Homo sapiens: one gene and its partners. The protein of the gene in region 1 interacts with the protein of each later gene in a pairwise test. Each region holds a gene or a part of one and is shown in the gene's direction. Other genes may lie near its edges. The genes, in order: LNPEP, UNC93A, CGRRF1 and SLC35E3.

Region 1 (7,800 bases):
GATTATCTTATCAGTGGACTTGTTATATGAAATGATAAATGTCTGTATCATTTAAACTAGTTTTACTCAGAGTTTTGTCTTTTGTAGCCCAAGGAATCTGAACTAGTATATCACTGTTCTTTCCAAATAATAACCTTTCACTTTATTTGGCTGCGTTTTTTTGCTAATGCCTAAGCTCTACTTGAACTTTATTAGATAATTATTCTGCTTTCTTCTGTGCTCTAAACATTTCTTGATTTGATACAACTTCAAACATTACTAATTAATGCAGTGTATGTATGCTACAAATGGGTTACAAAGGCAATGAGATATTGACTCCTTCGGTCCTTAGGGTGGCCGGAAACCTCATGATGGTCAGCCTTGCCCTGGCGGGAAGCAGCTTCCTCCATTTATTCGAGTGCTGAACAAATAACATTTTCAAATGTGTTCAATGAATTAATGTATTGTTGCTTATTTCAAAATAATTAGAAAGATCACTTAGCAGGGCTGAATCCAAATTCCCTATGGAATATCAACTAATTAAGTTGGAATCTTAATTAAATGATTAATGGAATAGACTTCTAATAGATGAAATTAGCTATATTTCTCTCTATTCCATATTCTTTTCGTGGATTTTTGTCATTGACCCCAATTTGCTTGTGGAAACTGGGAGACAACAGAAAACTCTGAAGCACTGGTTTAGAACACAGATGGCCTGAGTTCCAGTCCATGTCTGCTCGTGGATTGTGCGTAAATATTCTACCCTCTCTAGACAGTAGTTCCCTCCTTATCTGTTTCAATGTGAGGCTTGGATTTGCTGATCTATGGAATACCAAGTGTTTTATTTTGATAAAAATATCCCTATATTCATTGATTATCAAGTTTGTCAGTTCTTTAAACAAATGCAATTTGTTTTTCAGGGTGCTTATATTTTTTTCCTGTCATGCTATTTATTATGTATTATAATTAACTCTCCAAATTAATGGTTTTCAAGTGTTAAATGGTAGAGAGCAATGATTCCGAAGACAGTAGATGGGTATAGTAGATAATGTCACATTATCTCCTTTGATAATGAATCGTAACTTCATAATAACTTAAACTGTCATATTCTTAAACTAAAGAGGAAGTTCTGTGTGGGAGGATAGGCGGGTGTTAAAGATAAAAACATAATGGGTTTTGGTTGTGAAATTGTGATATCATATTCCCTCAAAAAGGCTCTATGAAGTCAAATGTAAAACAGTATCCGTTGAAACAAAACAAACTTCATTATTATTCTTTTGCTCCTAGGTAGGCTTCTGAAACATTTCGTTTGTTTACTATTTTTACTTCTTATACAAAACCACGTCTTTTTTTTTTTTTTTTTTTTTTTTGAGATGGAGTCTTGCTCTGTCGCCCAGGCTGGAGTGCAGTGGTGTGATCTTGGTTCATCACAACCTCCGCCTCCCGGGTTCAAGTGATTCTCATGCCTCAGCTTCTCATGCCTCACCCTCCGGAATAGCTGGGATTACAGGTGTGTGCCACCACTCCCGGCTAATTTTATTTTTTGTATTTTTACATGTCTTTAAATGGTCCTTCATGTCTTTGTGTGTGTGAAGGAATGGGAGGGGTGGGAGGCAAGAGGTTGGCAAAGAAATCATTTGTCTCTTTGTCAAAGAAATCTCAAAAAGACATAATGATCCACCTATATTCGCTAGTGCATTTTTTTTTATCACGTCTCTGCAGAGTTGGGATATGTAAAACAAAACACAAGGTAACATGTTTCACACTTAAAAGCATGATAGACTGTAGGTTACAGGTGAAGTGAGGTGAGGTGATTTAACAAGCTGCAGTGTTTTAAATATCTCCTATACTAAGTGGTTTGGTTGCAAAAGGAACTTCAAGGGAACATGACATGACCTAAAATATAGAGAAGAGCGTCTTATTTAAGCAATACAATGTGTGAAGTATGTTAACAAAATCTAGCTCTGCGTGTACTATATAATATCTGAACTGGGATACATCAGCTCCTGTGGTTCACTATTTTTGGTTCTAAAATGTCAGTACTAGGGGCCAGCCTAACGGTTCTGATTACCTTTCACACATTAGGGAGATAGCAGCTCTGAGGTATCATATGATACAGACACCTTCTCTGTACTGATCAAACACATCATTCAGTATGGAGTCATTAACTGGAAGGGTTTGCAGCAGTGGAAGTGAACTCTAAACACCACTATGTCCTTCACTTATTCATGCAAAAATTATTTATTGTATACTTACCCAGGCATTGGGGATACAGCCTTAAAAAAGATTACGACTCTGCCCTCACAAAGCTTGCATTCTTGAGAAGGGAGACTGATAATAAGCAACAAATCCAAAACATTGTTTCAGACAGTGATGAGTGCTGAGAAGGAAATAAAGCAAGGCCAAGTCTTTATAGAGTGTTTGTGGCTATTTTAGATGTATGGTCAGACAAGGGTTCTTTGCAGAGGTGACATTTGAGCCGAGACTTAAATGACAAGATGGAATCAGTAGGCAAAGCACTAAGCAGAAGAAACAGTTCTTGTGCGAGGAGCGAGCAAAAGGAATTATTAACAATGATGGATGGAACTTGGCGACTTCCGGGAACAGCATGAAGGCCTTTGTTACCAAAATATGGTGAGTATGTGCTGATGAGGTCCCAGAGTTAGGCAAGGAGTTTCATTTTTTATTCTAAGTGCAGTTGGTATCCACTGGAAGTTTCAAGTAGAGCGTGCGTTGTGAGGGATGTAATAACAACAGGCAGTTTAAAATACAATATTGTACTTCGATTTGACTTCTTCGAAACCTAGTTTCCAATTCCAGTGCTGGTCAAACAACACCCTGGCCGTCCCTGTTTGAGCAGGCTGTTTGCGCTTGCCGCGGCTTGTTTGTCCCTGGCGCCCCGCTGTTGAAAGCCTCAGAGCGTGTGACAGTTGGCAGGCGCAGTGAGGCGCAGCCCGAGCCAAGTCAATGCAGGGGCCGGGGCTGAGGGAGGGGAAGAGGCAGAGGAGGCGGTGATGGCGCGCTGGGAGGGCGGCGGCCTCTGCAGCGAGGGTGGTGGCGATGCGCATACCGAGAGGATAAGGAAGCGGTTCCCGACGAGCCTCCTCGGGGCTTATGGGGCCCCTGGCGGTTCGGCCTCGGAGGCTAGCGGGGCTGCCCGATTTGGCACTGGAAACAATGGTGGCTCGGGGCTGGAGGCAATGGCGCGAGTGCTGGGGGGCAGGGGCGACTAGGGGAGTTTCGGTTTCTCGGGCCTAGCGCCGCGGAGCCTTGCTGCGGGCCCCAGTGGTAGCACCCCCGGGAACCGCAGGTGTTGATTTAAGGCTCGGAACAGGCGGGCCTTCTGCCCACATCCTGCGGCGCCCGCGACCCGGGCCGGGCGATCCGGCGCCGGGTTTTGTTATCCGCCCGCACCTAGAGGCCGCAAGGCAGCCGCCAGCCCCGGGACTGGACCCCAGGGCGCCCTCGGCCCTGCGAGGTCCCCGCCCTCTCTTCCGTCTCCTCCTCACCGCCCTCCTGAGGCACTCTGATGCGGGCGGGCATCTCTGCCGAAAACACCTACAGCGCCCGCTCCCTCGGTCCTTCGAGCAGTGATCCCTCCGCGGCCAACCTCCCCAGGGAAACCAGCGATTCGCGGTTCAGATAGCGACCTTCGCCCGCAGGTTCCTGCTCTGCCTTCAGACTTCGGCTTCAGTGGCACCTGCTCAGCGAGGCCTCGTCTAACCAAGCCATCCGAATTAACTACCCACTCACTCGCCATCACATCACCCCGATTTAATTCGCAGCGGGGCACTGACTTTACACTCGTGTGTCTTCTGTGTTTATTTATGGTCTGTTTCTGGAATGTCCGCTCCTGGGACTGGGACCATGATTTTCTGGCGCAGTGCGGGTGTCTCGGCGTCCGGGATCGGGCGGGTCGCAGTAGGGCTCCACATTTGTTGAGTGACTGAACACCGTTCCCGGCCGGGGAGAGCGCCGCAGCCGGGTCCACTTCAGGTAGGGGCTGGGCTTTCCCGGCCCCGCCTAGGCCCCGCCCCCAGCGCGAACCCGCTCCCACCTCGCCTGTCCACGGAGCAGCAGGGGGTTTGACTGTGCTTTTCCCTCTTGCTTCCCTCGCTCTTTCTGCAGCTGCCACGAAAACCCGGAACGGCGGAGCGGCGCCGCCCCTCGCGGCACCTCCCTGGCAGCCCTTGGAGGCCGCGCTGGGCATGCTCAGTCAGCTGGGCCGCCTCAGCTCTCGGAGTAGGAAGCTCGGGCGCTCCGGCTGTAAGGAGCCGCGGCGGGGGGAAAATGGAGCCCTTCACCAATGGTGAGTGGGCTGCCGAGGCGCCGGGACCCGGGCTCTCCGGAGCCCTGAGGGTCGTGGGCAGTCGTGACACGCGGGGTCGGGCTGCAGCCGTCTCCCCCAACACCGCGGGCTTCCCACGAGGGCTGAGGGAGGCAGGGAGAGGGGATCTGGGGGAGGCAGGGAGGTTCGGGGGGCGGGCGGCGGCCAGTGCGGGACCCGGGGCTGGCTTGAAGGTCAGCGCCGCCGCCGCTCGCCCGGGGTGCGGCCGGTGGGCAAACAGCAAAGTTTGGGCTGCTGTGCGCAGAGGAGTGGGCAGTGGGAAAGTTGGCAGCTCAGGTTTGCCCCCGGAGGAGGCGGTGTCGGCCCGACTCTCCTGTAGGAGCGTTAAGTTGTGGCAGCTGCCGAGCCCAACTTTTGTGGGGCGCCAGGAGCTGTCCCCCTGCCCTTCAGTGAGCTGCCGGCGTGACTTTTCCTAATAGGGCGGGGTGGGGGTGGGAGGCTTGGCAGGTTAATGTTGTGGAAGGAAGGGAAACTTCAGGAAAGGCTTGCTCACCTCGCTCGGTGCCGCGGAGGTGCCTGGCCACAGTGCCACCCTCCTGACCCTGCCGAGGTACTCGGCAGGGCCACCACGCATCCCCTCACTGGCTGCAGATCACATCAGTTTTTCAGTCAAAGACTTGTTAATGTCAAGGGTCCGTCACGGTGGTGATACCACTGTGTGACAGGAAGCGAGAGTCAACGCAGGGAGCCTGCACCCTGCAAACAGCCACAGCCCTTCACTGAACGGGGAGCATAAATCCCACCCTAGTTAGAACCATGGCTTTTGTGCGGACCAGAAGTGCCAGAGCCACAATATAGGGGTGAGATGTCTTACCGTTTTGCGGTGTTGAGTGTGTGGATTCCCTTTTAAGATAGAAAGTAGGAAAACTGCCAGTAAGGGAGACGACTCACTAAAAGAGGATTCAGTCTCTGGTTGACATGTTTTGCTGAGTGTGGTTGGTTACTTCAGGTACAGTATCACATTAATAGGGGCCACAGTCTATATCCCTGTTTAGTTTGTTAGTTACCACTCAAGAGCAGACAGATATTGTCCACTTTATCCCAAATCCCAGCCAGACTTTGTTGTATGCTGTGCTTCATTCATGGGGCTGTGAACTACTGATTATATTCTCCCTATTCCTAATGTAGAATGCTTTATTCTACTGCCATCTTTCTGTCTGCACTGTTTAATTAGGCTTACTGATAACAACTTTAATTCTGAATTTTCTTTCTCATTCAGGTTCTATTTGTAATTACTAAGACTTAAAGAATAGTCTGGTGAAGTTACTCGAAGAATTAAGGAAGGTTTGAGCTAAAATGAACTAGAGACCATCTAGTACTTTAGTGTAAAATATGTTTAATACAAGTCGTTAAGTCCTTGTAAGTGACTATTCCAATGTTCATTCTTTGTTTTTGGAAGAATGCTTGGAGTTACCATGTTTTTAAATGTGAAATTTCATCTAAATTAAAAAAAAAATCTCTGTGATGAGGCTGACTCACCCATTTGGTCAAGATTAGTGCTAGCTGATTTGCTGAACCTTTGCCTACAGAATTAAAGTACTTTCTCAAGTTTTAAAATTGGTGTCTTTTCTCTTATAGAATATGCTTCTAGATTGCTTCTAGATGTGGGTATTTGCAAACTGTCACATTTGGGAGGACAATGGAAAAATCCCACAGAAGAGAACAAAAAAAGAAGCAATGCTTCAACTTTCATGTAGGAAATTGGATTTCTGATTCTTTCCTATCTTTCAGAGTTGATGCTGGAGACAGCTTGGCAGTGCATAATTTTGGTTAATGTAGCAATCACTCCTTGGAGCCTTATTTAGCATCCTTTTACAAGGAAAACAGAAACGACAATATCTACAGTCAATAAGAAATTAAATGTTAGCAATTTGAAGTGCTTTTCAGGTTTAAGATGGACAGGGTATTTATTTGAAAACTTTTGAAGGATTGCTGTAGAATTTTCTAGTGTTTTCAAATGACATGGTACAGTAGACAGTTATATACTTCATCCTTTTGAGTACAAAAAATAATGCATGTATAATGCTCCCATTGGTCTGGGTGTGATGATGCAGAGTATTTCATTATCCATAGAATTTATGATTGCAAGATTTATCAAGCCTGGTATTGGATTTTGTTACACGTTCATCCTCTTTTAATGGAATCTTTCCCACTTACACTTTTTCATGTATCCCTATATATGTAGAGAGGTGTATGAGCTTAACAAAAAACAGTTTCAGTAATTTAGGACCACATATCTTTTAGTTAAAATCTTGTCAGTGGTTCCATCTACTGACCTATGCATTTGTAAAGGAAGTGAATTTAGCTTATATCTTGTCACTCTAGCCTTCAATACTCATCTATTCCAGTACGTTTTTTTTGTAGTTTCCCTGTTTTCTGTCCAAAGTTGCCACTGGTATGACCTATTTTTGTTGGGCCCTGCTCTCTACCTGTTGATAATTGGTTCATTTGATGAATATCCTATGTTAACCTGTTCAGGTAACATACTTCTGCAACCCATTTAAAATGCATATCCCTGGAAAGGGCTTATAAGGATGGATCTTAGTGCTAGGAATTCCCATTTAGCTCAGGATCTATTTTTGGCTTTGTCCTTGGGAGGGATTGCTATTATGTTGAAGTCTGGACATCTGGTCTGGGTTTGGATCTTTGGTGGCTTTTTTTATGAAGAGAGATGTGCTGGACCAGTACTTAAGATTGTTTTGGCAATAATGATTATGTCTTATTAGGCAGGTAGAGGTAAAACTGTTAAGTAATAGTGATTTGTATATTACAAAAAAAAAAAAAAATTGAAGGCAACTATCTGCTTTTTTGGTTAGAGATATTAGATTAAATAATTCTTTGATGTTTATCCAGATTTTTGTCTTCATTTGCATGCAGGGTTGGTATATTTTGTAAAAACTTAAATTCATCTTAAGAAATGCAAATGCTAAGGTTCACCCTCAGAATCTGATTAAGGAGGTCTGATTATATATGAAATACATACTAGAAAGTATGTATACTTTCTTTTTTTTTTTTTTTGAGACACAGTCTCACTCTGTTGCCCAGGCTGGAGTGCAGTGGCACAATCTCAGCTCACTGCAACCTCTGCCTCCCGGGTTCAAGTGATCCTCCTGCCTCAGCCTCCCGAGTAGCTGGGATTACAGGCGCCCGCCACCATGCCCAAATAATTTTTGTATTTCTAGTAGAAATGAGGTTTCACCATGTTGGCCAGGTGAACTCCTGACCTCAAGTGATCCGCTCACCTTAGCCTCCCAAAGTACTGGGATTACAGGCATGAGCCACCGCGCCCAGCTGAAAGTATATATACTTTCTAGTTTGTGATATATTCTAAAGTATATCTAAAGGTTGGTATTTTGGCATTTTGAGGTCCCAGAACTGAAAACATAAATAGTTTTTTTTTTCATATGAATGTAGGTCCTATGAATCACTTTTATTACCGCAGTGTGGTGCATAATCAAACAAGGAGGACTTAG
Region 2 (8,376 bases), on another chromosome or scaffold:
ATGGATGTTTGTGGTTGTGAGAGCAAAGGCACGAAATTATCTTTGGAGATTTTTGGGCGTAATTTCCCATCACTGTATCTTTGTCTGTATAGACAAAAATAATTGATAGAAAAAATACCTAGAAAATTCAAGCATCAGCCGGGTGCTGTGGCTCAAGTCTTTAATCCCAGCACTTTGGGAGGCCGAGGCGGGCGGATTGCCTGAGCTCAAGAGTTCGTGACCAGCCTGGGCAACACGGTGAAACCCCGTCTCTACTGAAATACAAAAAATTAGCTGGGTGTGGTGGCGGGTGCCTGTAATCCCAGCTACTCGGGAGGCTGAGGCAGGAGAATTGCTTGAACCCGGGAGGCGGATGTTGCAGTGAGCCAAGATCGCGCCACTGCACTCCAGCCTGGGCGACAGAGCAAGACTCTGTCTCAAAAAAAAAAAAAAAAAAAAAAAAAAATTCCAGCATAATCAGCACTTTCTGCCCCTCATCCAGGCTTAGAAGACATGTAAGTGGTTGGCTCTCGGCTGTACAATCACAGCCCGGCTTCCTCGGCTATCCAATCACAGCCGTATTTGGCTCTCAGCTGTCCAATCATAGCCATACTTGGCCCTCAGCTGTCCAATCACAGCCCGGCTTCCTCCACTGCTCGCTGCACTCAGCTGGATCTTTTCCACCCAAAGTGCCACTTGCTCCAGTTTGCAGGGTTCATAGAAACGGCTGCTGAGCTGCAGACCTGGTGATGCTTGGGTCCAGCCGAGCTGCTCTCTCCAAAGCTGGACACTGCTCTGCCGCCCGTGTGGAGATGGGGTGTGGATAGCGTGTGTACCACCCCATACTCCCTATCGTCCCACCTGCTCTAGTTTTGGGATCGCACTTCTTCTCTCCATGGGAATTTCAGTTCTCTATTTTGCTTAGTTGTTCACTGTTTGGTTCCTCCACTAGAACTAGGCTTCTGTGAGAATGGAGACCCCTGGCCCTTTTATCAGTGTGGTACCCCAGTACATTAGGAAGGATGCCTGGCCCAGGGTAGACGCTCAATAAATAGTGTGGACGACTGTAGAAGTGGGTGCTGTATCCCAGGCTGCAGAGGGCTCATGGGAAAGGAAAAGGACCTACGAACTTGGAAAATAAAAAGGGTGTGTGTGTGTGTGCATGTGTGTGCATATGTGTGTGTGTGCATGCGTGTGTGCATGCGTGTGTGTGTGTGTGTGCACTGTGCACATGAGTGTGTTCTGAACCAGGACCTACACGATCCCCCTGACTATGAGAGTGGAACAGGCCAGATTCTCCGCACTCGGGCTCACCTAGCGTTGCCGCCCTGACAGGGAGAGTGGAAGACGGTGATCAATCACAGAGCTGCTGCTCTCCTTCATTCTGGTGCAAAATGAGGGTGCCTTAGCCCAATCAGATGCTGTTGTTCAGGGACCCTGCAGGCCCTTGACGGTCTTGGCTGGGTGGTCAGGCCACTCACATGTCCCAGGTGGAGACGTGGGCTGAGAGAAAGACCCAGAATCCCAGGACATCACCAGCAGCTTTAACCACACCGTGGAAGCTGGGAGGATTCACAAATGGTGTGAGGATGGGAGTATTTCCAGCCAGGCTTGCCACACGATGGGTCTCTGCCCTCTCTGATAAGTAATGGAAATTAGCTAAGGGTCTTGGCTGAGGGCCTGACATAGCCAACTGGCCCCAAAGCTTTTTCTCTGATTGGCTCTCTGGGTTCTCCTTGGCCGAGGAAGAAGCCAGAGCCCCGAATGCCCGCTCAGCTCAGGAGGTGGCCTGTCTAGCCAGGGGAAGGCGGAGTGGTCAGCCCCCGCCAAGATTTAAGATGCTTTGGAACATTTGCTAAGAGAAAATACTCTCTCAAGCCATGGTTGTGTTAGCACAAATTGTTCTTCCTTACACACACACACACACACACACACACACACACACACACAGCATGAGTACATTTATTTCCAAAGTGTGAAATTCCCTAAAGTAGCCAAGAACTCATTCTACTCCCTATAGATACCTTCTTCATCTTTATGTGGATAAAAAGATGTAAGATACATTTGAGTTTATTTGGTATTGCTTTTATTAACAAAGATTTCAGATGTAAATGTCAAGAAAATTGATATTAATTTGCTTACATGAGTACATTCCTTAAAAAAGCAAACCATTGGGTAGACTTCCCTTAAATTAATCTTTAGATTCTTGGCAGGAAGTTTGGTGATTTACAAGGTGATTCTACAGCATGAAGAACGCATGGCGCCTGTGGTGAACTCAGCCGTAGCAAAACGGTGCCATCTAGTGGCTGGTGAAGTCTCGGTTTTCCGGAACACGCGTGCTCTGAGCTTTGTATCACCCAGGGCATCTGTCATTTTAACGTCCAATGAGTGACCTGCAGATTCGAGCAGATCTACAGAACCACCTCTTTTCTCAAGCTGATAGAGCCCAGATGTTAATTTTAAGGACTGAAGTGGCTATTGACACCTTTTAAATCCTTTACACGTACCCGTCTTTGGCCTTTGGCAGGTCAGCCCTGGGCCAGGCCATGGCTCCAGTGCACACACAGAGCTCATAACGCCAAAACCAGCTCTGAGAGCCAAGCCAGCTCTGGGTTTCTAGAGGTTGCACTCTCTTCCCTCAGGCAACTCCATGTCTGCAGGAATGTGTAGGCTGCGGGAAGGCAGCCTCAGGGGTCGGGTAAGATAAGAGTGTCCCTTTGTTTATGACGAGACCACTGGGGGACCATGTCTAAGACCTGCCCTGGTCACAGGAACACTGAGGGGTGCTGGGAATTATCTCCTCTAAGAGAAGCATTTTATTCTGCTACAGAGAAAAGGCAGAGAGTGAAATATACTGTTCATTTAAAAAAAATCCCTTTTAACATAGATAAAGGGGAGGAACTGGGAGGAAAAGAGAGAAAAAGCAGACGTAACTGAAGCCATGGTTTCAGAAATTCAATCCTAGTAGAAGTGCTGGAGGGACAGGGAGGGTGTGGCTGGGAAGGATGGAAACAGACCAGGTTTATTTGTGCACAAAGGGAAGCTCCTTAGAAGGCATAGGCTGGTGAAGGGGAGGGGAAGAGCAGCCTCTGGAAACAGCCCCCAGAGCCAGAGAGCGAGTCCTAGAGGATGGGGCTGGTGAGTTGAAGCAACCAAGGGAGAAAGACCAGCAGACAGTGCAATAAAACATCAGGAAGGTCCTCTAATATCAAAATACAGGTCATCCATGGGAACTAATGAGAGGCCAGAACTGAAGTAAACTAAAGTGTTGCCAAAAAATAAAAATAAGGTCCAAGTTGATTGATCGATAACACGGTTAGTATGAAGAAGTCCACATTATGCTAATTTCTTTACATATTATTCTAATTTGTATTGTCTCTGAAAGTCAAAATATCATCTTAGTCAATTAACATTTATTGGTGATAACATTTATTGGTGAAGTTGAACCATATATGTATCTTGAAGTTAACATTTTTGCTATATATCGGGTGCTGTTCTAGGGGCTTTCAAAATTATCCAAGTCTTGAACTTTTGCAACCCTCCTTTTTAAAGAGGAAACAGGTTCGGTGACTCAGTGACCCACCTGAGATCACCTAGCTAACAAATTACAGGATTAGGGTGTGAACCCGTGGAGCTCATCTGTTTCCATGCTCAGAATCCCTTTGCTAGACTGCGTGGCTCTTATGTCTATGTAAGCATGATAGTCCATGTTTAGTTAATATAAAAAGCTATTGTTTTCATAAAACTTTCATTTTCACTGAAATACATTAAGTGACAAGAACTTTACCCCATTTATCATTGGCCCTGATCTTCTGATGGTCTGGCAAGCTTCCCTGAGTAGTGTTGCCAGGATGCTAGACTTACCTGCGAGATTTGCCTTATAGATCTAATCTAGACAGAAATGGCTGACTTCACAGAACTTTGGAAACAATCTGCAGACATCAAGTTTTACTTATAATTGAATAAAAATAATTTTTCTTGCTTATTAGCTATGACATTTGTGGTAAGTTGCTTAAAGCTCCAGACTTACCCCGTCTAATACAGTTGTCTCTAGCCACATGTGGTTAAATTTTAATTGTAATTAACTAAAAGGAGATGCAGTTGTGAACTCATTTTATCAGTTGCACTTGCCACATTTCAGAACTCAATAGTCACATGTGGCGAGTGGCTACCATACTGGACAACACTGCCCCAGACCAAAATACCAAATCATTTAACTTTTCTGAAGCTGTTTCCTGTCTTATAATGGGTCTAAGATTTCTAATGATCATTAGCATAGCACTATTGTTGGTAACATGAAATAATGCATGAAATTCTTTGCATATTGTAAAGTACTATACTCATGTAAGTTGTTTTTTCTTTTAATAATTGCTGTACTGTGTTGTGAAACTGTACAGTCTTTGCAATACTAAGACTTTGGCCCCAGGATCTTACAATCACGTTAGCTCTTTTTCAGAAGTTGAACTATGTGTCTTGAAGTTGACATTTATGCTTTGTTCTTTAAGACTGAAGTCCTCATTCTGCACCACTGACAACTTCTGACAGTTTCTCTTACTGTGGAAGGTTCTATTCTATATACACATAAAAAGTGAAACATATCACTTTACCATCTGGACCATGTCTATTAGAATTTAATAGGAAAAAAGCGCAATTAACTAGAAGCTGGTAAGAGTAATGATCTTTTGCCCCATACAAAGTGGACATTGTGGATCACAGAGAAGGTAAATGAGTAACAGAGCTCCCGTATGCTTCATGGGGTCAGTGATAACCAAGTTCATTAACGAGTGACAGTCTTAATGACTAACACACCTCTAACATTTCACCTCTAGCTCAGATGAGAGAGAGAATGGGACTTCTTGGTACTGATTGTTTTTCCCATGCCTCAATTGGTTTCTTTTAGGGAGCTACAAATTTACGTGTTCACTGGTGATTGATCTTTTCATCCAGCACAATGGACAGAAGTCTAAGGAACGTCCTTGTGGTTTCCTTTGGGTTCCTGCTTCTCTTTACAGCCTATGGAGGTCTGCAGAGCCTGCAGGTATGTGTGTCCGGTCATCAAATTACCTGAACTTCTTGGCCTCCAAGAATCCCTGTGGTCACAGACAATAATGAATTGGAAATTTGAAAAATCTAATTCACCTGGTGTTTCTTTTTCACTCTGTACCAAATCCTCTAAAACAAACAGTGGTTCTCAGATGCAGTCCTACAGTGAGCAGTTCCCACTCACGTCTCAATAGGATTGCACAACAGCGAGGTGCACGTTGCTCTTGGACAAGGACAGCAGGGGTCTTGGGACTGTGATTTGTTGGGACATTCTTTGCCTTTGGGTGGTTAAAAGGAGACACAGGAAAAGTCATTGTGAATTCTATGATTGATTGGATGCCCTTGGCTTTGTGGTTAGGGGCAGCCATGTGAATTTATCAAATGTCACTAGACCTTATACATTCCAAGCCTACTCTAAGCTAAACTGTGAACTTTGACAACATGATCTCTCTATACTTTGAACTCCTTATGGCATGCTCTCCTCCATAGTTCCGTGAGCCCATGAAAAAGCCAAACGGCATTCTCCGAAAGGCTGCAGCATTCATCATGTGCACCTAGACATAGACCTGACACATTTTCCCAAGCTGGTTACATTTCAAGTCTGATCTTTACCTGGATTCCAGTCTGAATTCCAGGGAATTCCAAGGGCTGGTCAGGAAGCAGGGCTATTGTTACTCCCCCGGCTTATTCATTGCCACAGTGTTGTACCCTGTGGCCTGGTGTGGTCACATAAAACATTTCAGAGCTTCTGATGACAAATTAGTGTGGTCTTACATGGTTCGTCAATGAAGAATAAGAATTGGGCACCTACTGTGTGCATAGTATGGAACCAGAAAAGCACACCTGGGAACTCAGAATCCGAGGTTTCTCCTCTCACTGTTGTTGTGCAAACACTTGGGACTCCTGGGTTGCCAAGGAAGCTGGAATTCAGTCCTGAATTCTCAAGTAATGTTTCCTTTTGCTGAACTCCTATCTGGTTCTATTTCTGATCAGGCTTACAGAGGATAAAATGGCAGCCAACAGTGACTCTCAAAGTCAAGTGGAAGGGAACACAGTCTCTTTTCTTGCCGCAATGGTTCATTACTTTTGGAGTCCCTGCTTTGCCCAGAACTTTGTGTTGTTGTCACAGAATGCTGGTGTGAGTGAAATGCCTGTTGGGTTGAGGTGAGTGCATGTTGAATGTGGTTGGTGTGCACTTTCTGGAAGGAGGGAGTCTCAAGGATGTGGACTGGTCAGTAGCCCTTTCTCTTTAGAAAGCTCACCTGCCTGCAGAAGGAGACCCTGCTGTCCTCCTGGCACAGCAGCTCCCCTGGGGTCAGCATTCCTAGGAACCGACAGCTCCCCTGGGGTCAGCATTCCTAGGAACCAGTTCTGGTGGATCCGCTGTGGCTCAGCCACTGTCTGAAAATTGGCCTCTGGACTTGGAAGCCAGAGGAAGGGGGCTGGAGGGGGCTGGGAGCTGCCAGGGGTCCCTCCTCTCAGGCTGTGACGGCAGGACCCAAGGCTGTGGGCAAATGCGGGCAGACAACCCTTTGCCTCTTCAGCCCCAGTTTGGGGGTGCCTCATTGGGGAATCACTCATGGTGGCATCTGGATGAGCTCCGCAGCTGTGAGCAGCTGCCTGGGGAGTAGATTGTCCCACGCCCCGCCAGCACTTCCCACTCCTCCTGGGCTGGTGGAAGTGGGAGCTGCTGTCTCATGATGTCAGCCCTTCCTTCTCAAAAGACTGGAGATGCAGGGGAGCCAGACCTCCCTCTCTGCAGGGCCCCAGGACTGTGGAAGGGTCCCCTCCACTCCAGCTCCACCCTGGTTCGAGGCCCCACCCGGGCCTATTGTCGGCAGCTGACCTTGAGCATGCGGACGTGCTTTAACCCTCTAACTGGGACAGCTGTCTCTGCTACTCAGGACTGGCATGGGCAACACAGAGTGTTCAGATAGAAGTGACTCAGGATTGGTTTTGCCCCAGCATGCTGAGGAGCCGAGCCCACCTCTCTCCAAGAACCCCAAGGCTACTATGGGGTTGGCTTCGCTCTCAGGCCCCAACAAGGCACATGCATCCCCAGGCTCCCTCCTCAGAGCTCAGCAGCCCCAGTGAGAAGACAGGGCCTCATTCCAGAGAGTTCTCCTGAGTCCTCACCCTGGTCTGGACTAGGTCCCCTCGTCCAAGGACAAAGGACGCTCTTTTGTGGCACCTCCCCCTGTAGCCACCACCTCCTTTCACCCTTTCTGGCTGCAGGCCTCCAAGTTCTCATTCAGCTCTCAACTTGGAGGTCACCTCCTTCTCCCCACCCTGCCCTGGAGCTGAGGTCTGGATGGGGCACCCAGCACCCTCGTGGCGGTGTGTGCCTGCCCGGGTTGTCTCCACCAGTGGTGGCGGCCTGCAGTTTCCAGGATACGAGGGCCACGTCCCTGGTCCATTCTCAAACCTTAGACAGTGACGGGCACTCGGAGGCGGGCGATGGATATTTGGTGAAGGAAGAAATCATTCATGTGCACTCAGCTGCTTCATATCCTTCGGGCCTCCCCATGGGCTGAAGGACCCCTTACATTCCCTGGGAGCACGCAGGCTCCTCACAGATGAGTTCTGGCAGAGTCTCCAGCCCCATCCTGTCACACTGTCCTGTTCTCAGCTGAGATTCAGGCAGGTGTCCACAGAGGCGTGAGCGGCTCTCACAGCCATCCAGCCCCGGCGCAAGCACTCACAGGGGTGCCGGGCCTTCACTCCCTGATGTTTAGACACACTAACTGCTTTATTCCGAATTCACCTGCACTTTTCTCCCACCAGCTTCAGAGGAGGCTCCCAGGGCAGCAAGCCTGTGGCTGGCGGTTCCTGGGAGCTGTGGCGGCCTCCAGCCTGGGGGACACTGAGGACCTGCTGGTGCCTCATCCCGCTGTGTCCATCCTGTGCTCTGACAGGGCTGGCTTTGTTCCCACAGAGCAGCCTGTACAGCGAGGAGGGCCTGGGTGTCACAGCGCTCAGCACCCTCTATGGAGGCATGCTCCTGTCCTCCATGTTCCTCCCACCGCTCCTCATCGAGAGGCTGGGCTGCAAGGGGACCATCATCCTCTCCATGTGTGGCTACGTGGCCTTCTCCGTGGGCAACTTCTTCGCCAGCTGGTACGCAGCCACCACCCCCTGCCCACCCCACCCCGGCCGTTCCCCACGCTAGGGACGTTCACTCTGCACATGAGTTGCATTTGCACCTGATTACTGTTCACTGCAGGCATTTTAAAATGAGCTCTCCTGCCCCTGCACCCCCGCCTCGCTTTGGTGACAGACGGTGCTGGGCTTCCTTCCTGTTTTCCCACCAAGGCTCCTCTGTGCCCCCCACTGCTTCTGTCTCCTCCTCCCGAT
Region 3 (7,850 bases), on another chromosome or scaffold:
ACTCATTACTTTGTTTCTTTGCTTTTTTTGGATCCATAAAGGTATTTGTTCCCAGCATTTTATTATAAAAATTTTCAAACATACAGAATACTAGAAAGAATTACACAGTGAACACACATCTGCCCATCACTTAGATTCTACAATCAGCATTTTACTGTAATTTCTCTATTACATATCTGTCCACATTAATCCACTCTTTTATCCATACATTGGTCTATCTTATTTCACGATGCCCTTCAAAGTGAGTTGTACTCTTCACCTGTAAGTTCTAAAACATTACATATTACTGATTAGAGTTCAGTGTTTGTTTTCGTTTATAGTTTTTTGAAGTAACATTTACATATAAGATACACAAATCTTATTTTTTATTTATTTATTTTTTTTGAGATGGAGTCTTGCTCTGTCGCTCAGGCTGGAGTGCAATGGCGCGATCTTGGCTCACTGCAAGCTCAGACTCCCAGGTTCACGCCATTCTCCTGCTTCAGCCTCCCGAGTAGCTGGGACTGCAGGCGCCCACCACCACGCCTGGCTAATTTGTGTGTGTGTGTGTATGTGTGTGTGTGTGTATTTTTAGTAGAGACGGGATTTCACTGTGTTAATCAGGACGGTCTCGATCTCCTGGCCTCATGATCCATCCGCCTCGGCCTCCCAAAGTGCTGGGATTACAGGTGTGAGCCACCGCACCCGGCCAAGATGTACAAATCTTAAGTGTACCATTTACCAAGTGTTATCAAACACATCATCTATACAGCTTAAGCCTCTGTCAAGATACTGAACGTTACCGTCAATTTTCTTATGCTCTTTCCCAGTCAGTCCTACTCCTGTACTTCCGGAAGCAACCATTGTTCTCATTTTTATTTCTACCATAAATTTGTTGTGCCTGCTCTAGAATTTTATATTAGAGAAGGATACAGCATTTATTCTTTTGTGTAAGGCTTCTTTTGCATAGCACGATGTTTCTGAAATTTATCCATTTGATTGTAGTAATAAGTTGTTCCTTTTCACTGCTGAATACTTCTATTCTTTTCTTTAAATATACCACAGTTTGTTTACTCATTTCAGCGGAGTCTTTCTTTTTTCTTAAAGCATATGGGACTCAGGTATCTGTGGGGTCTTTTTAATTTTTCTTTTTCTTTTTTATCTATCACTGATATGTATTTGGAGAGAAGGGAGTGCATCAAATAGGCTCCTAACTGTGCCGTCTTTAACTAAAATTTCCTAGTTTAACTGGTGTGTATTAATTTTAGATTATTTTATGTAAATTGAGTAAAGTAGCTGTTTTTTAATTTTATTGGGAATTGAATTTAGCCCCTTTCATTTTCCTTTTAATTCTGTTCCATGGGCATTGTCAGAGTTTACATTTTTACATGAAATTTAAAAGTAGAAGATATATAAATGAAGAGCTATAGTTGGTGTTTTAAAAGTTCCATTGTCCTGGCTGGGTATGGTGGCTCACGCCTGTAATCCCAGCACTTTGGGAGGCTGAGGTGGGCGGATCACCTAAGGTCAGGAGTTCGAGACCAGCCTGGTCAATATGGTGAAACCCCGTCTCTACTAAAAATACAAAAATTACCTGGGCATGGTGGCACATGCCTGTAATCTCAGCTACTTGGGAGGCTGAGGCAGGAGAATTGCTTTAACCCGGGAGGCAGAGGTTATAGTGAGCCAAGATCACGCCATTGCACTCCAGCCTGGGCAACAAGAATGAAACTCCATCTCAAAAAAAAAAAAAGTTCCGTTGTCCCATAAATCATATTAGTCTGCCTCTTTTTTCTTTTGAGAGACGAAATCTTGCTCTGTTGCCCAGGCTGGAGTCCAGTGGCACGATCTCGGCTCACTGCAACCTCTGCCTTCCGGGTTCAAGCCAGTCTCCTGCCTCAGCTTCCCAAGTAGCTGGGTCTACAGGTCCACGCCACCATGCCCAGCTAATTTTTGTATTTTTATTAATGACAGGGTTTCACTATGTTTTGGCCAGGCTGGTCTCGAACTCCTGACCTCAAGTGATCCTCCCACCTTGGCCTCCCAAAGTGCTGGGATTACAGGCATGAGCCACCACACCCGGCCAATAGTCTGCCTCTTGAATATATATTTCTTTTTCACATTTAAAAAAATTCAATAAGTTCATCATGTGTTTGCTGTTAAATTAAGTATAATTTATCTATAATCTCCATACTCCTTTGGTGTTATCAACAGTATTAACAATAGAACTCTTTGTTTTCAAGAATGTGTTGATTCAGCCAGCTGAACAATACCTAGTCCTTCCTTGATATCTGAGGGGGATTGATTCTAGGATACCCACCCCCCATATTCTAGGATGCTTAAGTCCCTTATATAACATTACATAGTATTTGCATATAACCTACACACGTCCTTCTGTACACTTCAAATTATCTCTAGATTACTTACACCTAATGTAAATGCTGTGTAAACAGTTGTTATACTGTATTGGTTTTGAATTTGTAGTATTTTTTATTGTTATTTTTTATTCTTCCCCCTCGTCCCCAAATATTTTTGATGTGCACTTGGTTCATACAGAGGGCCAACTGTTTTGCAGTTCTGTGGGATCTCTAAAATAACGTAAATTGAGAAATTTAACCTCTTTCTGACACTTAATGCTAAAAGGAATCGCTAATGAAGCACAACAGATTTTACACATAACATAAAGTTTCAACATTTGTTAAAATAATATTTTATTTTTTACCTTTTTTTAGGTTTGGTTGGGATGTTCCAGTAATTCTGAGAAATTCAGAAGAGACCCAGTTCAGCACAAGAGTTTTCAAAAAGCAAATGAGACAAGTCAAGAATCCTTTTGGCTTAGAGATCACTAATCCATCTTCAGCTTCAATTACAAGTTGGTGGCTGTTTTCCAAAGATTTTCTCTCATTGTTTGCCCTCTTTTTTTAGCCCTTTTATTTTCTTTCTCTATTTCTTTCCCTTCATTAGACTTTTAACAAACATTTGTTGGGCAACTATGTTGTTCCAGGTGCTGTACTGTATATGACAGATACAAAGATTAAGAAGTTACAAACTTTACTCCTGAAGAATTTATCACCTAGTAAACAGAGGTAGATGTGTATACAAAGGAGTAGAATGAAGTATTACAGGTGTTAATAGTGAAGTCTCTTAGGACACTATGCCATTTTTATTGGTCTGTAGTAAAGTGAGAAATGATGTGTTATGTCTAAATACAGTTAACGTAAGGTTGCTAACCTTTTGAGGAACAATTGCCTTTTTATTTTTTTTGAGACAGATTCTTACTCTGTCATCCAGGCTGGAGTGCAATGGCACAATCTCGGCTCACTACAGCCTCCACCTCCCGGGTTCAAGCGATTCTCCTGCCTCAGCCTCCCAAGTCACTGAGATTACAGGCATGCACCACCACACCTGGCTAATTTTTGTTTTTTTAGTAGAGACAGTGTTTCACCATGTTGACCAGGCTGGTCTCAAACTCCTGACCTCAGATGATCCACCCACCTCAGCCTCCCAAAGTGCTGGGATTACAGGTGTGAGCCACTGCGCGCGGCCAGAATGATTGTCATTTAATCTGAAACTATGGTATTTTGGTATAAATTATTTTGATATAACATGTTCTTTTGTAGATGGTAGGTAATAGATGGCAGTTGTTTGCTTTTGTACTTGCTTGGAAAAATAAGTTGTCTGCAGGACCATATAGGAACCATTAGAATTGTAAAGAAAGAGATGCTTAAATTTGTTAAGGTGAAGAGGCATATTCAGGAAAGCCTTCATAAAAAAGAATATGCTGAGTCTCTCTTACTTTTTTTTTCTTTATTCCTTCCTCCTTTTTTTTTTTTGAGTAGAATCTTGGAAGATAGGTGTTTACTTCGTGGATGAGAAATGGAGTGATACATTAAAGAAACAGTAGTTATGGCTAAAGCATAGGATGGGACAGGTAACAGAGGAGTCTAAGAAGACTCAGGTTCTTCCTATGGGTCCTCCATAGCCAGATCCTGTTAGAAAAATGAGGAGTACAGAAAGAATAGCAAGTTTCCAAAGAAAGGCAATGAATTCAATTTTGAACTTTTGGACTTTGAAATTCTTTCGTGACAGTTCAATAGAAATAAAGAGTAGGCAGTCCTAGATACAGTTCTGTAGCTTTTTTTCTGGGCCGAGACCCTGTCCCTTCTATACTTGCTTACATTTCTGGTTTCTTGAAAACAAATAAGCCAGATCTTTCTCTGCTTTTCATCCTAGTCTAGCTACTGCCGTATTTCTCTTCTTCCCCTCACAGCCAGCTTCTTAGAAGCTGTTTGCATTTTCCTTCTCTTAGCCTGCTTCATTTTTACTCCTCAGTGCAGTGCAGTCTGACTTTTCCCTGTATCCCTTTACTGAAATGGCTTTCTCTGAGGTCACTAATTACGACTTCTGCCCTGCACTTTTGACCCCCAGCAGTCATCAAATCCAGTGGGAGCCTTTCAGGGCTGAGTTAATGCTCTCTCTCTAGTATTTTACAGAGTTGACCTTCATTTGCAACGTCCTGCTCCCTTGCGTCTATGGACCATTCTTGTCTATTCATCTTTCCTGCCTCTAACTCTCAGAATCTAATAACTGGTCAGAAATCAGTTTACTTAGTCAAATAGATCATCAGGCTTAAGTAAATCTTGATTTGTAAGGAAAAATATATGTTTTTTTTTTTTTTTTTCGAGACAGGCTCTTGCTCTTCCACCCAGGCTGGAATGCAGTAGTATGATCATACCTCACTGCAGCCCCAATACCCTGGGCTCAAGTGGTCCTCCTGCCTCAGCCCCCTGAGTAGCTGGGACTACAGGTGTGCATGACCGTGCCTGGCTAAATAAAAAAAAAAATGTTTTTTGTGGAGATGGGGTCTTGCTGTGTTGCCCAGGCTGGTCTCAAACTTCTGGCCTCAAGCAGTCCTTCTGCCCCAGGCTCACAAAGTGCTGGGATTACAGGCGTGACCCACTGTTCTTGGCCCCAAAAAGTACAAAATTTCTTATTCATCCTCTTTAGCTGTAAATACTATTACCCTATGAATTGATGGAAACTAGGATCTCGGCCACTCCCCTCCCCGCTCCTTCCCTATAATAGATAACAGTTCATTCTGATATTTTTTACTTGAGAAAACCAAATTTTGAGATATGACACAGATAAAACTAATTTGTTTAAAAGATAGTAGGTTGTGCATGCCTGATTAAAGTGTACACCCAGCTACCAGCTACTCGGGAGGATGAGGTGGGAGGATTGCTTGAGTCCAGGAGGTCGAGGTTGCAGTAAGCCGTGATCACACCACTTCACTTCAGCCTGGGTGACAGAGTGAGACTCTGTCTCAAAAAATAAAATAAAAAATCAAGTGTACAGCATAGTGGTGGTTCAATAACCTCCCACCTCTGTGGCCATAGGCTAGAACCTGCTACAATGTCACATCTGGCTCTTGAGCAGGACCCGCAATGAAAAACCTACCAGCTGCAAGGCCTTCCTTCCTGCAGTACAGTTCCACAGGTCTGAAAATACACTGAAAAACTAAGAAGAGCTGATACATTGTGAGCAAAACACAGGGCACTTGTGAGGCAGAAAGTGTGAGGAAATCCATCAATCTGCTTTTCAGGCAGAAATAGTCACAAATAGAACCAGCCTTGCGAATGTTTGAGGCAAATGAAAAGATAGCCAGTAAGTAGCCCTCTTAGCTATGCCTGCACACTAGTTGCTAACCAACAGTAGTATTACTGAAGTCATGAAAAATTATTTAAATGTGTGGATGTACAGCATGAATACTGAAATATTTTAATTTTTAAAATACCGATGCATATCATTTATTATCTTTCTCCTATGGGGAAATAGAAGGATTTTGATAGGAGTTATACTCAACAGAGTAAAATTCATTTGTTTAAACTGTGGAAAAGTGGGTATCATTAAAGATGTCTATACAGAACATTAAAATAATATTGTAACAATATTTGTGACATTTAAAAAAGTTATTTCATTTGATGTGTAGATAGTTTAAAAATCTTTTTTTCACCACTGTACCCAAACTGCCTGACATATAGCAGAAGAGGGTGAATAATCTAGAGACCTGATTTAACTTGAAAATAAACCAGAGGCTGCACGTGGTGGCTCATGCTTGTAATCCCAGTACTCTGGGAGGCTGAGACGGGCGGATCCTTGAGTCCAGGAGTTCAAGACCAGCCTGGCCAACATGGCGAAACCTCATCTCTACTAAAAATACAAAAATTAGCTGGGCGTGGTGGCACATGCCTGTTAGTGCCGGCTACTCAGGAGGCTTAGGCTGGAGGATTGCTTAAGTCTGGGAGGTTGAGGCTGCAGTGAGCTGAGATCATGCCACTGCACTCCAGCCTGGGCAACAGAGTGAGACCCTGTCTCAAAAAACAAAAACAAAAAAACACACATGCTTTTTATTTATATTTAAGATTTTTTTTTTTTTTTTTTTTTTTGAGACGGAGTCTCGCTCTGTCGCCCAGGCTAGAGTGCAGTGGTGCAATCTTGGCTCACTGCAACGTCTGCCTCCCAGGTTCAAGCAATTCTCCTCCCTTAGCCTCCTGAGTAGCAGGGACTACAGGTGCATGCCACCATGCCCAGCTAATTTTTTGTATTTTTAGTAGAGACAGGGTTTCACCGTGTTATCCAGGATGGTCTCAATCTCTTGACCTCATGATCTGCCCACCTCGGCCTCCCAAAGTGCTGGGATTACAAGTGTGAGCCACTGCGCCCTGGCCATATTTTAAAATTTATAATTAAAAAAAAAAGAAAACCAGAGAATCGATTTTAATCTGAGTCATTTAGTTCTGTTTACTAGGGGTGGGTTGCTGGGATTTTTTTGTTGTTGTTATTATGTAATGATATATTTGGATTTGCGTTTCCATGTCTCCAATATAGAGTCTTTAATGAAATTGAAAGTTAGATACTCAGTGTATATAAGTTGAGTTGAATTAATTTGATTCAGGAATTCTGCTTTTTGTAAATAGCTTCCTTATATTTTAGCTTATTCACTCTGGTAAGAGCTAACATTAAAGCAAAAGGGTTAGAAAAAAACACAATGTACATGGCATGTTTGGAGGCGTTTGTGAACCTCCATTCTCTACAACCTAAAACTTTCATCTCCCAATACTCTGGCTTTATTATCCTCATGAATGGTCTCCTTGTTTTATTACTGCTTCTCTCACAGGGATCCTTCCTCAAGAAGGTTTGTGGCTTTTCCGCCCCATCATTTCTCCCTTTTTAGTGGCTTAGCATATTTTCTACAGTCCTTATTTTTTTCACTTTTTTGCAAGGCTGTCTCTTACACTCCGCTTTATTTGCTTGTTATAGATAGTCTGGGTAAGGACAGTTTGAGAGATACCACACCCATGTGCTTCACTTATTTTGATTCTGAATTTTCTTACAGCTACGTCCCAATTCTGTTAATGCTATTGATCTAAAGTGATGTCATGTGTGTACTGAGTTTTAGAAGGCAAAAAAATACATAAAAATTGAAACTCTTTGCAAAAAAAAAAGTGGAAAAGGTAAAGGGAGAATAGTTTTGATGGGGGTACTGACACTGTCTTCAGATAGTGGAAATCATTACATTCTCCCCTCAGTTTATGTAATGGACAAGTTTGTAAAAGATTATAGAGATATACCTAATGCTAAATGACGAGTTAATGGGTGCAGGACACCAACATGGCACATGTATACATATGTAGCAAACCTGCACATTGTGCACATGTACCCTAAAACTTAAAGTATAATAATAATAACATTAAAAAAAGAGATTATGGAGAGTATAATTTTATAGATTCTGTAGTTTTTTTAAATTAATTTTAGAGACATTTTAAGATCTGATTAATCTCCAGTTGTCAAAGGTCTCTGACACTCTTCCC
Region 4 (7,850 bases), on another chromosome or scaffold:
CGAGAGAGGGAGCAAGAGAGAGAGGGGAGGAAATGCCAGTCTCTTTTAAACAGCTAGCTCTCATGAGAACTAATAGAGCAAGAACTCACTCATTACCCTGGGGAGGGCACCAAGCCATTCATGAGGGATCCAGCCCCATAACCCAAACACCTTCTACTAGGCCTCACTTCCAACATTGGTGATCAAATTTCAACATGAGATTTGGAGGGAACAAACATCCAAACTATATTACCATTGTTATTATTTTTACTGATGAGGAAACCGAGAGATAAAGAGTTAGTAACTGGCTCGCAATCCCACAGCTAATAAGCAGAAACACAATTTGGATACATGCCTTCTGGGTCCAAAGTCTGTGTTCTCCAGTGCTCCGCTCTGCTTCCCCTAAGTAGACCAGTAGTTATTTCAAATTTATATATTTTACCATATACACTTTTTTTCTAAAGTAGAGGTCATTGGACCATCTATCAGATAATATTTCCACTTTGCAAAAGTCCTAGCCATCCTGGTTATCTGGTTTCAAACCATTGCAGCCTAGAGACCTTATACTACAAGGAGAGAGGATTTTTTTCGTAGCCTTCTAACAGGTTTTAAAATGAGGACAGCAGCAGAAAAGCCATTAAAAAAAAAAAAAAAAAAAGGCAAAGAAACCAAGACCACAGCAGGCTGAGGCCATTTAGTGTGAAGGAAAGTCATCTTCATTCCTTAATGTCCCTAGGAGGCATCCTTGACTCAAAGTAGAGGATTGTGTCAACTCAACTTTTTTTTTTTTTTTCCATATGAAGCCAGCATTACCCTAATACCAAAACCAGGAAAGGACACAACCAAAAAAGAAAACTAAAGACCAATATCCTTGATGAACATAGATGCTAAAATCCCTAACAAAATACTAGCTAACTGAATCTAATGACGTATCAAAAAGATAATCCACCATGATCAAGTGGGTTTCATACCAGGGATGTGGGGATGGTTTAACATACAAAAGTCAATAAATGTGATACACTATGTAAACAGAATTAAAAACAAAAATCACATGATCGGCCAGGCGCAGTGGCTCACCCCTGTAATCCCAGCAATTTGGGAGGTCAGGGCGGGCGGATCACGAAGTCAGGAGATTGAGACTAGCCGAGACCATCCTGGCTAACACGGTGAAACCCCGTCTCTACTAAAAATACAAAAACAAAATTAGCTGGGCGTGGTGGCTGGTGCCTGTAGTCTCAGCTACTTGGGACGCTGAGGCGGGAGAATGGCGTGAACCCGCGAGGCGGAGCTTGCAGTGAGCCGAGATCGTGCCACTGCACTCCAGCCTGGGCGACAGAGTGAGACTCCAAATAAATAAATAAATAAATAATGGCATGATCATCTCAATAGATGCAGAAAGAGCATTTGACAAAATTCAGCATCGCTTTATGATTAAAACCCTTGGCAAAATCGGCATACAAAGGACATACCTTAATTTAATAAAAGCCGTCTATGACAGACCCTCAGCCAACATAATACTGAATGGGGAAAAGTTGAAAGCATTCCCTCTGAGAACTGGAACAAGACAAGGATGCCCACTCTTACCACTCCTCTTCAACGTGGAACTAGCTTCTTTATATTCTTCAAAGTCCGTAACAAAGACCCTAACAAAGTAGAGTAATTGTGTTTTTAATGATGTGCCAAGTATCAAGTTTAAGTTTTCTTTGGAACTTAAACTTCTTAATAGTTTATATCATGAATATCATTTTATCTAAATTCAGAAACAAAATGATTCTATAACTTTTTGGATAAAATTATGGGATAGATTTGAACAGAACTTTGTATGTGTATATAGTGGTCCAACCCATTTGTCCCCCTGTGCCCAGCCAAGTTATCTATAAAAAGGAATAATATTTTTACAACTACTTTGTGGATGTATGTGAAAATTAAATAAGTGAATACATGTAAAACAGAACAATTATTGGTGCATAATAAGTGTTATGTAAGTGTAAGCAGTGATCATCATGATTTTTATTATGTCCTCAAGTAGTTTCTAAGCTCTTTGAGGGCAGGAACTTTGTACATACTGCGTTCCTCAGAAGGCCTGGCCTAACTTTGTAGATATCCAATGAATGCTTATTGAGTTAAATAAGAATAAAAATGAGGCCAGGTGCAGTGGCTCAGGCCTGTAATCCCAGCACTTTGGGAGGCCAAGGGGTGCAGATCACCTGAGGTCAGGAGTTCGAGACCAGCCTGGCCAACATGGTGAAACCCCATCTCTACCAAAAAATTCAAAAAAAATTAGGTGGGTGTGGTGGCATGGGCCTGTAATCCCAGCTACTGGGGAGGCTGAGGCAGAAGAATCACTTGAACCTGGGAGGCAGAAGTTGCAGTGAGTCAAGATTGCACCACTGCACTCTAGACTAGGCGACAGAATGAGACTCCATCTCAAAAAAAAAAAAAGAATAAAAATGAGCAATTTAATAGAAAAAGATCTCGGCCGGGTGCAGTGGCTCACGCCTGTAATCCCAGCACTTTGGGAGGCCGAGGTGGGTGGATCATGAGGTCAGGAGTTCAAGACCAGCCTGGCCAAGATGGTGAAACCCATCTCTACTAAAAATACAAAAAATTAGCCGGGCGCAGTGGCAGGCGCCTGTAGTCCCAGCTACTCAGGAGAATGAGGAAGGAGAATCATTTGAATCTGGAGGGTGGAGGTTGCAGTGAGCCCAGATCGTGCCACTGCACTCCAGCCTGGGTGACAGAGTGAAACTCCGTCTCAAAAAAAAAAGAAAAAGATCTCGAAGGAGGTATGCCGAGATGTTAATGTGTGGGTGGTTGGGATTATAAGAATTCCTTATATTCTTTTTGCTTTTCTTTATTGTCTGATGTACAATAATAATAATGCATATGTATACTTTTTCTTTAGATTAATAAGAAAAATGAACCTGGAAATTCACAATCACAGAAAGGATGTTATTGCAGTATTTTTCGTTGATTCTTGTGGAAAAAATTACGTTTTTTCTAAACACGGTTCATTCTGCTTTTTTACTTGCAATTCTTACTGTCTCCCAACCCCAAATTCTCTTTCTTTTTTTTTTTTTTTTTTTTTTTTTTTTTTGAGATGGAGTCTTACTCTGTCGCCCAGGCTGGAGTGCAGTGGCGTGATCTCGGCTCACTGCAAGCTCCACCTTCCAGGTTCATGCCATTCTCCTGCCTCAGCCTCCCAAGTAGCTGGGACTACAGGCGCCCGCCACTGCGCCCAGCAAATTTTTTATATTTTTAGTAGAGATGGGGTTTCACCATGGTCTCGATCTCCTGACCTCGTGATCCGCCCGCCTTGGCCTCCCAAAGTGCTGGGATTACAGGCGTGAGCCACCGCGCCCGGCCCTCTCTTTCTAATCTTATTTATTAATGGTTGATATTTGAATTTTTTAAAATGCCGAATGAAATGTATCTTTGCTTGATGATTATGATTGCAGTGCTTTGCATTAATGGTTCTTTTGGTTTATTTGTAGCTTATGGTGCTGCTATCTGGAGTAATAGCTTTCATGGTGAACTTATCAATTTATTGGATCATTGGGAACACTTCACCTGTCACGTATCCTTTTCATATAACTTAGAAATGCATCGTCTTTTATATTTTCCAAAACTTTTACATTCATTACCTTATTTGAATCTCACACTAACTATTGCATGGCCTAAATTGAGTAGAGAGAGTTATTTTTAGCCTTTTACTGTATCTTTACCCACTAAAGGATTTTAAAGAAATATGAACTGAAGGGGCAAGTGTGGTGGCTCACACCTGTAATCCCAACACTTCAGGAGGCCGAGGCGGGTGAATCGCTTAAGGCCAGGAGTTCAAGACCAGCCTGGATAACATGGTGAAACCCCGTCTCTACAAAAAATATATAAATTAGCTGGGTAAGGTGGTGCACGCCTGTAATCCCAGCTACTCAGGAGGCTGAGGCACAAGAATTGCTTGAACTGGGGAGTCGGAGGTTACAGTGAGCTGAGATTGTGCCACTGTACTCCAGCCTGGGCAACAGAGCAAGACTCTGTCTTAAAAAAAAAAAAAAAGAAATATGAACTGAGGAAGTGGGTTAGCTTTTTGTGTCATGAATGTTTCTGAATTTTCTTATGTAATAGGTGACCTTTTCCCTTACAAAAATTAACTCAGAGTACCATTTCTTACAGACAGTGAGATTAAATATTTTTTGAATGAATAGTGAGGTGGAGGTTTGGATTTTCAAACAATTTTCAGGTATTTCTAGTAACAAAGTAGAGGAATGGTTAACAAATAACAAAAGATAATTTCAGGCCACTGGCATCTGGCTATGGAGTATGTGTTTGTACTTATTTGGATATGGGTGTGCCTGTTTTTCTCAATATTATTTCAAGTCAAGAAATGAAGTCATTGGCCGGGTGCCATGGCTCACGCCTGTAATTCCAACACTGTGGGAGGCCGAGGCAGGAGGATCGCTTGAGCCCAAGAGTTCGAGACCAGCCTGGGCAACATAGGGAGAACCTATCTCTACCAAAAAAAGAAAAAATAGAAATGAAGTTATATGTTAAAGGTCAAATTCAACTGTCCATTTGTACCATTCTGCTTGTCATCCTGTTTCTCTTCACATTTCACTCTGCCCCCACCCTTAGGCAAATGCAACAAATGAATTTCCCCAGGAAGTAAACAAGTAGGATATTTGCCAACTATCAATAAAAAACAACAACGATAAGTTTTTTAGAAAACCAATACTTAACAAATATTTATTTTGTGTCAGACACTGTTAGAAACATTTTGTATGTATTAGTCCATTTAATTCTCACAGCAGCTCTGTGAGGTAAAGTCTGTCATTTTTGTTTATAGAAAAAATAGAGGCACAGAGAGGTTAACCAACTCACTTAAGGCACACAGCTGACAAATGGGATGTCCAGATTTGAACCCATGCAGTCTAGTCCCCAAATTTGTACATCATACTACCCAATCAAGGCATCCAAATATGTGCTCTGATTTAAAACATTAATTTATTCAATAAGTATTTATTGAATACCCACTAAACCAGTCATTGATATAAAAATATTTATATACTGAACATCTACTGTGTGCCAGGCACAGGGGATACAGTAATGAACCACATAGACAAAAGTCTTTGCTCTCACAGGCTTGAATTCTGGTGAGGAAGACTAGAAATAGAAAACAATTAAATATTTATATACAGTGTTGGATAGTGTTAACTGCCAAGGAGTAAAAATAAAGCGGGGAAGAGAATGTGAAATGTCATAGACAGCATTGAAGTTCTAGGCAGGGCTAGTCAGGAAGGCATCAGTGGGAAGACGACATTTGAGTAAAGACCTGAAGGAAATGCAGTTGCTCCATGCAGATCAGGAGGAAAGAACATTCCAGGCAGAGGCAACAGCAGGTGCGAGGCCGTAAAAAAACCAAGGAAGCCTGTGTGGTTAGAGCAGGTTGAGCAAAGGAGGGAATGTGGTAGGCTGAGAAGTAACACAGAACTGAATTGAGTAGGGCGTTTATGTAAGGACTATTAAACTGAGTAAGATGGGAAGCCATTAGCATTTTGAGCAGAGAAGTAACATGATTTTACATACATTCTAATAGAAGCACTCAGTGGGCCGGGCACAATGGCACACCTGTCATTCCAACACTTTGGAAGGCCAAGACAGGAGGATCCCTTGAGCCCAGGAGTTCGAGACCAGTCTGGGCAACATAGTAAGACCCTGTCTCTACAAAAAGTTTTTTAAAATAAAATAAATCATAGAATCACTCAGGACTCCTGTGTTGAGAATAGACTTAAGAAGGATTTCTCAACCTCTGGGCTGTTGACTTTTTGGGCTAGACGGTTCTTAGTGCAGGCCTGTTTAGTACACTGTAGGATGTTTTCAGCAGGCCTGGGCTCTACCACCAGATGCCAGTAGCATACATACCCTTTGCCCAGTTGTGACAACCAAAAATGCCTCCAAAGATTGCCCACAAAGCAGAATCACCCATGGTTGAGAACTACTGGACTGAAAGAGGCACAGGAAACTCAGGAGACTGCTACGATATTCTAATTTAGAAGTAATAGTGGCTACCAGTATGATAGCAGTGGATATAGTAAGAAGTGATTGGATTCTGGAAATATTTCTAAGAAGAGCCAACAGGTTTTGCTGCCGAGTTGGATGTGGAGAAAGAGAAAACAAGGCTGATTTACATGGTTTTTGACCTGAGCACCTGGTAGAATGGAGTTGCCATCAACTAAGATAGGATACCCAGAAGGAGGTTTGGGGCTGGGGAGGAAGATAAGGTGCTCAGTTCGGGGAGTATTTTGTTGTTGTTGTTTTTGAGACAGGGTCTTGCTCTGTCACCCAGGCTGGAGTGAAGTGGCGCGATCATGGTTCACTGCAACCTCAAACTGTTGGGCTCAAGCATTCTTCCCACCTCAGCCTTCCAAAGTGCTGGGATTACAGGTGTGAGCCACCGTGCCCAGCCAGGTGCTCAGTTTTGGATAAACAAGTCAGGGTTCAAAGGTGACGTCTCAGCAGGAGGCATCACAGGGAGTGAGCAGTATGAAGCTGTGGTTTAAAGTGATGAGACTAGTTGAGATTACCAAGCAGACAAGTAGAAGAAAATAAGTCCAAAGACTGAGTGTTGGGTTTGAGTCCAGTATTTGGAATTCAGAGAGATGAGAAACTAGGTGGAGGATGAGAAGGAGCAGTCAGAGGTGGAAGGAAGGAGGAGACTGGCACAGAACCAGAGGAAGGAGGAGGAGGCGGGGTCGGTGTCTGTGTCAGATGCCGCTGGCAGGCCAAGTTCAAGGAGACTGGTCACCATTGAGGGACTGAGTGAGGTGGAGGGCACTGGGTTTGACCAGAACATTCTGCCTGGAGTAAAGTGGGTTGGGGTTGGGGTGACAGCCTGCCTGGAGTAAAGTGCAGAACTGGAAATACCACATGTAGACTGCTCTTTTGTTGTTGCTTTTACAAAAGGATTCATAAATAGTTTCTTTAAATTTGACTTCCTTCTCGTATAAATATACTTAAAAGAGAAGCTGAGGAGTAAAGAAATTTAAAGTGTTAGAGCCAGTGCACATGAAGATAGCTCATAATTGAAAATAAAACATTATGACTATTGCCAACAACCTTGGGAAGATCCTCTGTGTCTCAGGAAGTCACCTTCATGGGATCAAGCCACCATATGCCCCTGGTGACGCAGCCTGTGCTCTCCTGAGGCACTGCTGCTGCCCAGCGGGAACCTCCAGGCTGCTTAGGTGGGCTTGGAGGTCAGACAGGTCCAGGTGTGAACACTGAGCTCTGCCACTCTCTGTGGGCCTGACTAGTGTGGGAACTCTCAGGGTCTCACTCTGATCACTTATGAAATGTATGAAGTGGAGGAAGTACGATCTATGATGTTGGGTGGTTGTATTTGAGAGAATGTGTCAAGCACCAAGCAGGTGTTTATGATACATAAGTACTGCTGTTGGTAATGTTATTATAGCTAGCACATATGGTGCTTACTATATGCTAGAAGCTTTGTGTATATTAACTTATTTAATCCTTACAATAACCGTGGGAGGTAAACCCCTTTTATATAGTGAGGAAACTAATGCACAGAGTGGTGGCTGTTTCTAGTGTTGTAGTTAGGAAAAGCACATAGGCAAACATCATACATCTGAAGAACAAGAGAGTACTCATTTATATAGAAAAAATAGTTATATTTAAATATAAGTAATTGTGTGTGTGTGTGTGTGTCTGTGTCTGTGTCTGTGTCTGTGTGATGGAGTTTCGCTCTTGTTGCCCAGGCTGGAGTGCAATGGTGTGATCTCGGCTCACTGCAACCTCCGCCTCCCAGGTTCAAGCGATTCTCCTGCCTCAGCCTCCCGAGTAGCCGGTATTACAGG

Evidence for each region.
Region 2: the proteins of LNPEP (region 1) and UNC93A interact in binary tests that used the Homo sapiens proteins (3 or more experiments, as listed by UniProt).
Region 3: the proteins of LNPEP (region 1) and CGRRF1 interact in binary tests that used the Homo sapiens proteins (3 or more experiments, as listed by UniProt).
Region 4: the proteins of LNPEP (region 1) and SLC35E3 interact in binary tests that used the Homo sapiens proteins (3 or more experiments, as listed by UniProt).

The regions. Positions count from the first base shown.
Region 1 is NC_000005.10:96,931,887-96,939,686, forward strand, and holds the start of LNPEP (leucyl-cystinyl aminopeptidase), read left to right. Parts: upstream 1-4,193; 5' UTR 4,194-4,269; coding exon 4,270-4,288; intron 4,289-7,800. Other genes in the region: uncharacterized protein LOC124901030, read right to left, coding at 3,485-4,189. UniProt on the Homo sapiens protein: Release of an N-terminal amino acid, cleaves before cysteine, leucine as well as other amino acids. Degrades peptide hormones such as oxytocin, vasopressin and angiotensin III, and plays a role in maintaining homeostasis during pregnancy.
Region 2 is NC_000006.12:167,286,560-167,294,935, forward strand, and holds the start of UNC93A (protein unc-93 homolog A), read left to right. Parts: upstream 1-4,755; 5' UTR 4,756-4,930; coding exon 4,931-5,017; intron 5,018-7,957; coding exon 7,958-8,139; intron 8,140-8,376.
Region 3 is NC_000014.9:54,519,743-54,527,592, forward strand, and holds part of CGRRF1 (cell growth regulator with RING finger domain protein 1), read left to right. Parts: intron 1-2,711; coding exon 2,712-2,851; intron 2,852-7,850. UniProt on the Homo sapiens protein: Able to inhibit growth in several cell lines.
Region 4 is NC_000012.12:68,755,684-68,763,533, forward strand, and holds part of SLC35E3 (solute carrier family 35 member E3), read left to right. Parts: intron 1-3,473; coding exon 3,474-3,556; intron 3,557-4,356; coding exon of another isoform or gene 4,357-4,402; exon of another isoform or gene 4,403-4,708; intron 4,709-7,850. UniProt on the Homo sapiens protein: Putative transporter.